2 linked regions of the Homo sapiens genome follow. The protein of the gene in region 2 purifies or fractionates together with the protein of the main gene of each other region. This does not show direct contact. Each region holds a gene or a part of one and is shown on either strand. Other genes may lie near its edges.

Region 1 (3,811 bases), on a different chromosome or scaffold from region 2:
CAGAAACAGGCCAATACAGCAGGAAGATACAGCAATGATACGTGTGAATGCATCTAACCACAGAGCCCAAAATCCATGAAGCAAACACCGATCGAATGGAAAGAAATGGATCATTTATTAATTAGAATTGGAAATGGCAGCTGGGCACGGTGGCTCGGGCCTGTAAACCCAGCACTTTGAAAAGCGGAGGCAGGCGGATCACGAGGTCAGGAGATTGAGACCATCCTGGCTAACATGGTGAAACCCTCGTCTCTACTAAAAATACAAAAATTAGCTGGGAGTACAGGGCGCACGCCTGTAATCCCAGCTACTCGGGAGGCTGAGGCAGGAGAATCGCTCGAACCCGGGAGGCGGAGGTTGCAGTGAGCCGAGATCGCGCCACCGCACTCCAGCCTGGGGGACAGATGAAGACTCCGTCTCAAAGAAAATAAAATAAAAAAATGAAAAAAAAACTTCACGGATTGAATTACGTAGAAAGCCAGTTTACAAATGTGGACAAAAACGCGATAAGCAAGCTTCTGTTTAGGGGGAATGATGGCGTGTGCCTCTTCAGGGACCGCTTGGAGCAGTTAGAAAGGAAGCGGGAGCGGGAGCGCAAGATGCGGGAGCAGCAGAAGGAGCAGCGGGAGCAGAAGGAGCGCGAGCGGCGGGCAGAGGAGCGGCGCAAGGAGCGGGAGGCCCGCAGGGAAGGTAGGCGGCGCGGTGGGCAGCTGTGCTCGGCGGGACGCGTGTCTGCTGCCCCCTGGTGCTGGGCACTTGCTGTCACAGGCGGGCGCTTGGTTCCGGTGCTTGCTTTTCGCCCCTGCCTTTTTTTTTTTTTTGGAGGCAGAGTTTTGCTCTTGTCCCCCAGGCTGGAGTGCGGTGGCGCGATCTCGGCTCACTGCACCCTCTGCCTCCCGGGTTCAAGTGATCCTCCTGCCTCAGCCTCCGGAGTAGCAGGGATTACAGGCACCCGCCACCATGTTCAGCTATTTTTTTATATTTTTAGTAGAGACAGGGTTTCACCGTGTTAGCCAGAATAGTCTCTTGATCTCTTGGCCTCGTGATCCACCCACCTCGGCCTCCCAAAGTGCTGCGATTACAGGCGTGAGCCACCGCGGCCGGCCAGTACGAGCTTTTATAGTCACCCACGTCCTCACCTTAATGGAGATCTTTATTTCTTCACCCAGCTTCCGGTTTCTGTCTCGCGTCCTTTCCTTACACCCCACACAACTCCCTGGAGCTTATTCTTCAAGGCAGGTCTAGGTCTAGTAGTAATGAACTCCCTCTGCTTTTGTTTATCTGAGAATATCCTCATTTCTCCCTCATCTTTGAAGGAAAGTTTGCTGGATACGTGGTTCTTGGTTGACAATTTTGTTGTTGTTGTTTTGAGACAGAGTCTTCTTCTGTTGCCCAGGCTGGAGTGCAGTGGAGCGATCATAGCTCACTGCAACCTCGAACTCCTGGGCACAAGTGATCTTCCCACCTCAGCCTCCCGCGTAGCTGGGACCTACAGGCGTAGCGTGTGCCACCACACCTGGCTCATTTTTCAGTAGAAACAAGGTGTCCCTGTATTGCCCAGGCTGGTCTTGAATTCCTGGGCTCAAGGAACCCTCATGCCTAGCTGACAGTTTTTCCTTTTCACTTGGACTATTTCAGCCCATTGTCTTCTGGCCTCCAAAGTTTCTGATGAGAAATCTGATGATCTTATAGAGGATCCCTTGGATGCTTTAATCTGATGACCTGATTGAGGATCCCTTGGATGCTTTGAAGATTCTCTTTGCCTTAGGCTTTCAACTGTTTAATAATGGGTTTTCCTGTGGGCCTCTTGACTTCATTCTACCTGGAGTTCACTGAGCCTCTCTAATGTTTATATTTACGGTTTTCATCCAATGTGGGGGTTTTGAGGAATTCTTCAGATACCCTCTCTGCTCCTCTCCTCCCTCCTGGGCTCCCACAGATCTGTTGGGGTCCCCGAGGCCGCTCAGCACTGCTCCCTTTTCTTCAGTCTCTTCTGCTTTCTTTTCCTCAGACGATGTGATTTTATTGTCTTCAGGCTCACCGATTATTTCTTCTGCCTGCTCACATCTGCCTGTGAGTTTCTGTTGTGAATATTTACTTTTTAGTGTCTATTGTGAGCATGTACTTATTAGCTCTGGAATTTCTCTCTGGTTTCTTGTTGGATCTTCTGTCTCTGTTGATATTTCCGTCGTGTTCACGCGTCATTTTCTTGACTTTCTCCACATCTTCCTTTCGTTCTCTGAGGAACTGAAGGTTAAGACAGTTCCCTAAAGTCTTTGGGACATCTACCGTCAGGTGATTTTCAGGAACCGTGTCTGTTGGCTTCTTTTTTTCCCCTCTGAATGGGACATACTGTCCTATTTCTTTGTTTCTCTTGTGTTTTTCTTAGTCAAAAAAATGGACATTTGATTCTCATGATGTGATTCTTCCTGGTCCCCACTCAAGGGTGTGCACTTGTTGTTTTGGTTGTGCTGGGCTGTGTCTGTGGGGTCGGCCTGTTGTGGAAACTCAGGGTCTTCACGGGTCTTTTCTGAGCCTGAGCCTTTTCCTGGTCACGTGCAGCCACTTTTTAACGTTCCCGTCAATACAGATGTTTTTAATGTTCTTGTCCTGAAGTGTCTGCCTCCTAAAGGGGGAATAGAGAGAAATGAAGGGGGCAACGGGGGACGTGGTGCTCATGCCCTGGAAGTACCTTCAGCTTGGGGGTGGCCGTGGCTGCTGCCTCTTCATGCCTCTGGGGTGGGACACGCAGTCATCACACTGACCTCGGGTGTGTGTGTCCGTCTGCCCACCTGGGTCCGGCGAGCTGCATGCAGGCTGCTGCCTGCCAGCGGGGAGTGAGGTGGGAGCCACTAATGTGCGAAGCGGTGACGTTGATTAATGAATCACAGTTTACTCTCCAAGATTCCCCCTGAAGTTGCAAACCTTCAGTAGACTCCAGAGCACCTCAGTAGTTGCACAGGCCTGATCCTGTGATGCAAGTGTTGTCTCGGTGGGGAGACTGATTCCCAGTGCTTCCTACTCCATCTTTCCAGAATCTTCTCCCGCCCCTTCCTTTTTGACCAGTGAAGATCAGTCTAGAAGGTCCACCTGGGTCCTCGGGCTCACGGCCTCCAGGTTGGAGCTTTTTCTCCCTGGGCTTCCTGGGAGACCTCTGGCCTCTGACCCCGATGCTGTCAGCACCCTGTGCACGCTGTGGGTGTGTCTGCCAGGTGCGGGTGTGGGAGACGAGGCAGCTGTGCCGGGTGGGGCCTTTTGAGGAAGGCAGTGCTGCTAGTGCCATCTCCCTCTCTGCCCTGCGCGCCAGTGTCTGCACATCACCGAACGATGAGAGAGGACTACAGCGACAAAGTGAAAGCCAGCCACTGGAGTCGCAGCCCGCCTCGGCCGCCGCGGGAGCGGTTCGAGTTGGGAGACGGCCGGAAGCCAGGTGAGGCCAGGCCGGCGCCTGCGCAGAAGCCAGCACAGTGTGAGTCTTTTCTGGGGGATGTTTGGCATAAGTGTGTAGGATTCATTTAAAGCCCAGCTAAGTAACCGCTTCAGAAGAAAGTGAGAGATGTGCTGGCTGAAGTCCTCTCGTGTCGTGAGAGGGACCGTGAGTGTCTGTGTGCGGCCAGGACACAGGACGTGTGTTTATCCGCTGGGACATTCGCCACTGGCCCCGTTAGAGAAGTGGCTTCCAGCGTCTCTGGATGAGCTGGTTTCCGACCAAGCAAAGTTAATCGTTACGTGAAAGGCACTAGTTTTGGGGTGGTGGTAGCTTGTTTGTTTAAAAACATTTCCCCAAATTCACCTTTATGGTTTATCTCAT
Region 2 (3,811 bases):
GCAGAAAGCTACAATAAGTTGTTTCTCATTATAAGTTTGTTCCCAGTGGTATTTGGCTGATGGGTGTTAACAAAGCAAAATACAAAATGTAAATAATTGGAAAATTTGGGTAAAGAGCATATGAAGAGGCAGGTGCTGTGGCTTGAGCCTGTAATCCCAGCTACTTGGGAGGCTGAGGCAGGAGGATAGCTTGAGTCTAGGAGTTAAAGGCTGCAGCAAGTTAGGATTGTGCTACTGTACTCCAGCCAGGGCTCTTAAAGCTCCAACATAATCCTTGACTCCATGTCCCACATCCTGGTATAAGAGATAGACTCCCAAGGCCTTGGGCAGCCAAGTGATATGACTGAGCAGTGGTCTCAGGACCACTTCTCAGAGGGCAGTGGTCCCCTTACCACAGATCCATTAGGTAGTGCCCTAGTGGGGACTCTGTGGGGAGCCCTCACATTTCTCCTTGGCACTGCCCTGGTAGAGGTTCTCTGTTGGGGCTCCCCCACTGTGGCAGGCTTCTGACTGGGATCCCAGGCTTTCTCATACATCCTTTGAAATCTAGGTAGAAGCTGCCAAGCCTCCTTCATGCTTGCATTCTGAGCATCTGCAGCCTTAACACAATGTGGAAACTACCACAACTATCAAGGCTTGAACCCTCTGGAGCTGCAACCCAGCCTGCGCCTGGGGCACTCTAAGCTGAGGCTGGAGCCAGAGTGGCCGGATTCAGGGCACAATGTCTTGAGGCTGCTCAGGGCAGGGGGTCCCTGGGCCTGGCCCTTGGAACCATTCTTTTCTCCTAGGCCCCTAGGCCTGTGATGGGAGGGACTTTCCTGAAGACTTCTGAAATGTCTTCCAGGTCTTTTTCCCATTGTCTCAGATATTACCACTTGGCTTTCTGTTAGTCATGCAAATCTCTTTTGCGAGTGGTTGCTCCACAGCCGACATGTATTCCTCTCCTAAAAATGCTTTTTCTTTCTCTACTAAATGGCCAGGCTGCAAATTTTCCAAACTTTTATACTCTGCTTACCTTTTAAATATAAATTCCAACTTTAAGTCATTTTTTTGCTCCCATATATAATTGTAGGCTGTTTGAAGCAGTGAGGCAGCCAGGCCACTTCTTGAATGCTTTGCTGCTCAGAAATTTCTTTTGCCAGGTACCCTAAGTTATCACTCTTAAGTTCAAGCTTCCAGAAATCCCTAGGGCATGAACACAAAGCAGCAAAGTTCTTTGCTAGGACATAACATGGGTGACCTTTACTCCAGTTCCCAATAACTTCCTCATTTCCATCTGAGATCTCATCAGCCTGGACTTCATTGTCCATATTCCCACCAGCATTTTGGTCACAGCTATTTAATCAGTCTGTAAGAAGTTCCCATGGCTCAGTGAAAAAGTTAAAAAAAAAAAAGTTCCAAGTTTTCCCTCATCTTCTTATCTTCTTCTGAGCCCTCCAAACTTTTTCCAACCTCTGCCCATTAGCCAGTTCCAGAGCCACTTTCACATTTTCAGGCATCTTTATAGCAATGCATTGCACCTCAGTACCAATTTTCTGTATTAGTTCATTTCTGTGTCACTGTAACAAAATACCTGAGGCTGGGTAATTTATAAAGAAAAGAGGTTTCACTGGCTTACATTTATTCAGACTGTAAAGGAAATGTGGTGCTGGCATGTGCTCAGCTTCTGGTGAGGCCTCAGGGAGCTTTCACTCATGGGAGAAGGTGAAGTAGGAGCAGGCATGTCACAAAGTGAGAGCAGGAACAAGAGAGAGAAATTGGAGGACCCAAATTCTTTTAAACAACCAGATCTCACATGAACTAACTGAGCAGGAACTCACTAATCACCAAGGGGATAGCACTAAGCCATTTATGACGGACCCACCCCCAGGATCCAACACCTCCCACTAGGCCCCACCTCCAACACTGGAGATATGGAGGGACCAAACATCCAAACTATATCAAATGTAATTAAAAGGACTGGGTTGGACTCTGATGCTTGACCAAGTTCGAATTTTAGTGAATCTAAGCTTTAGCCACTTGCCTCAAAGCTGTCCCTAAGGGAAAAAATATACCAGGACAACAGTAAGTACCTCTAAGACCTGTGGTTACCAAAAGGCAATCAGTGTATGGGAAGGGTAAAACCAAGAAACTGAAACTACAGTGTACAGTGTGAAGGAATTGTTTATTTTGTAGCTTCTTAAGGAATCTTTACTCAACTGGATTGTGAGAGAAACTAAGTAGCAGCATCTTTGGTTTTAAATGTTGCATTGAAGAGCATATTTGGGTTTATGTAGGACCCACAGTTCACTATGAAACAATTACAGATGGTGATACATGATGCAACAATTACAGACGGTAAACACCTGATGCAGACACACAGGAGATGTGAAAAAAAAAAAACAACCAAAAACCCAATAGTCTTATCTATTTTGGGCTTCTAAAAGTTGTTAGGCCCGAAGGAAACTGAGTCACTGAGCTTGACCTCTTAACTTCCTTCTTTGTTTTCTTGTTCCTGGCTCAGACCAGATAGCATCTAAGATAAAAGATTCTTTGTCTGAGATAAAAGACCCCTTTGACTATTACATCTCTAATGCAGAATGTTAAATACGTTCTTCCCAATAAAAGGAAACACTGCTATCGAATTGCTATAACTATGCATTAATCTTGTATAGAAAATGCTGACATCCTGTTAAGCTTCCTAGACCCTGCCTACATAATGACTCTCAAACCTTTCCACTTCAGAGCACTTATCCAATCTTTTGAAGTCCGTGTCCTCCCAGGTGGACATCTTAAAATTTTGTGTTTGAATAAACTCAATATTTAACCATATTGCCTGAATCTCACTATCAATGTTAACAGATTGTTCCCAAGGGAACAGCCAGCCTGATCAACTGGATAAAAGACATGGTAATGTCTGCTTGCCCTGAAAAAGCGGACTGCTCAACTCACCCTATAAATGCTCGGTGGGATACCCCAGATGATGCAGCTGATATACCGCATGCAAGCCACGTGGGACTGAATTTATGATGACTGGGATATTCATCTGCTGAATATGCTTCTTACCCAGGTCATGGTAAATGCTGTGGCTAAGGGGGCCCCTTTCGCATGGATACCCCACGTGACTTTTGTAAAAAGAAAACTCAAAATGGAGATGGTTATGTCAGAAGTTTCTAAAAAGAGGCATGTGGAGTTGGACCTCAGTTATGTACACATCCAGATGGATTTTAACCTGTTTAACTGGGCCAAATTGTAAAACCAGCTGCATTTGATTGGAATTGTTTATACATGGCCTGATTGCGAAACTCTTGGGGAAACAGCTATGCTGAACTAGATTGATCATCAACCAAAGACATCCTAAGTTGCTAACCAACTGACATCAATCATGGACTGTACTAATACCTTCCAGATATGTAAACTTACAGTAAACATTTATAAGCCCCTGCCCAACCTTGCCTGGATAGAACAGGAAATGATTTAGCTGACTGCTAGATCTGTACTTCTTGATTGCAATTCACAAGACCCCACTTAAAACATCTTTTCTTTTGTTTGTGGCTCAGTATTGATTTTATTTATTAGTTGACATCTTAACTCTTGCAAAACTGAACAACAGTCCTAGAAGCCTTATCAGATTTGCTGTCTCAGCTTCCCTTTAAAGATATTAAAGATGTTAATAAAAACATTAGGTTAATTAGCAAGAGGAAAAAGGCAGAGGGCAGAGTCAAACGACTCATCCCAGAAAGCTAGAAATTTTTTAAAGGTCATTTAAAAAACAATGATAAAGGTGAAACTAAGAAGAAAGAGAGAGAGTCATGGGACTCATTCCAACAGG

Evidence for each region.
Region 1: the proteins of ZNF221 (region 2) and CDK11B purify together in Homo sapiens (affinity purification with mass spectrometry; one large-scale study listed by BioGRID and IntAct). This does not show direct contact.

What each region holds. Positions count from the first base shown.
Region 1 is NC_000001.11:1,642,005-1,645,815, reverse strand, and holds part of CDK11B (cyclin-dependent kinase 11B), read left to right. Parts: intron 1-526; coding exon of another isoform or gene 527-553; coding exon 554-690; intron 691-3,307; coding exon 3,308-3,430; coding exon of another isoform or gene 3,431-3,469; intron 3,470-3,811. UniProt on the Homo sapiens protein: Plays multiple roles in cell cycle progression, cytokinesis and apoptosis. Involved in pre-mRNA splicing in a kinase activity-dependent manner. Isoform 7 may act as a negative regulator of normal cell cycle progression.
Region 2 is NC_000019.10:43,957,561-43,961,371, reverse strand, and holds part of ZNF221 (zinc finger protein 221), read right to left. Parts: intron 1,186-3,811; exon of another isoform or gene 1,016-1,185; intron 997-1,015; exon of another isoform or gene 1-996. UniProt on the Homo sapiens protein: May be involved in transcriptional regulation.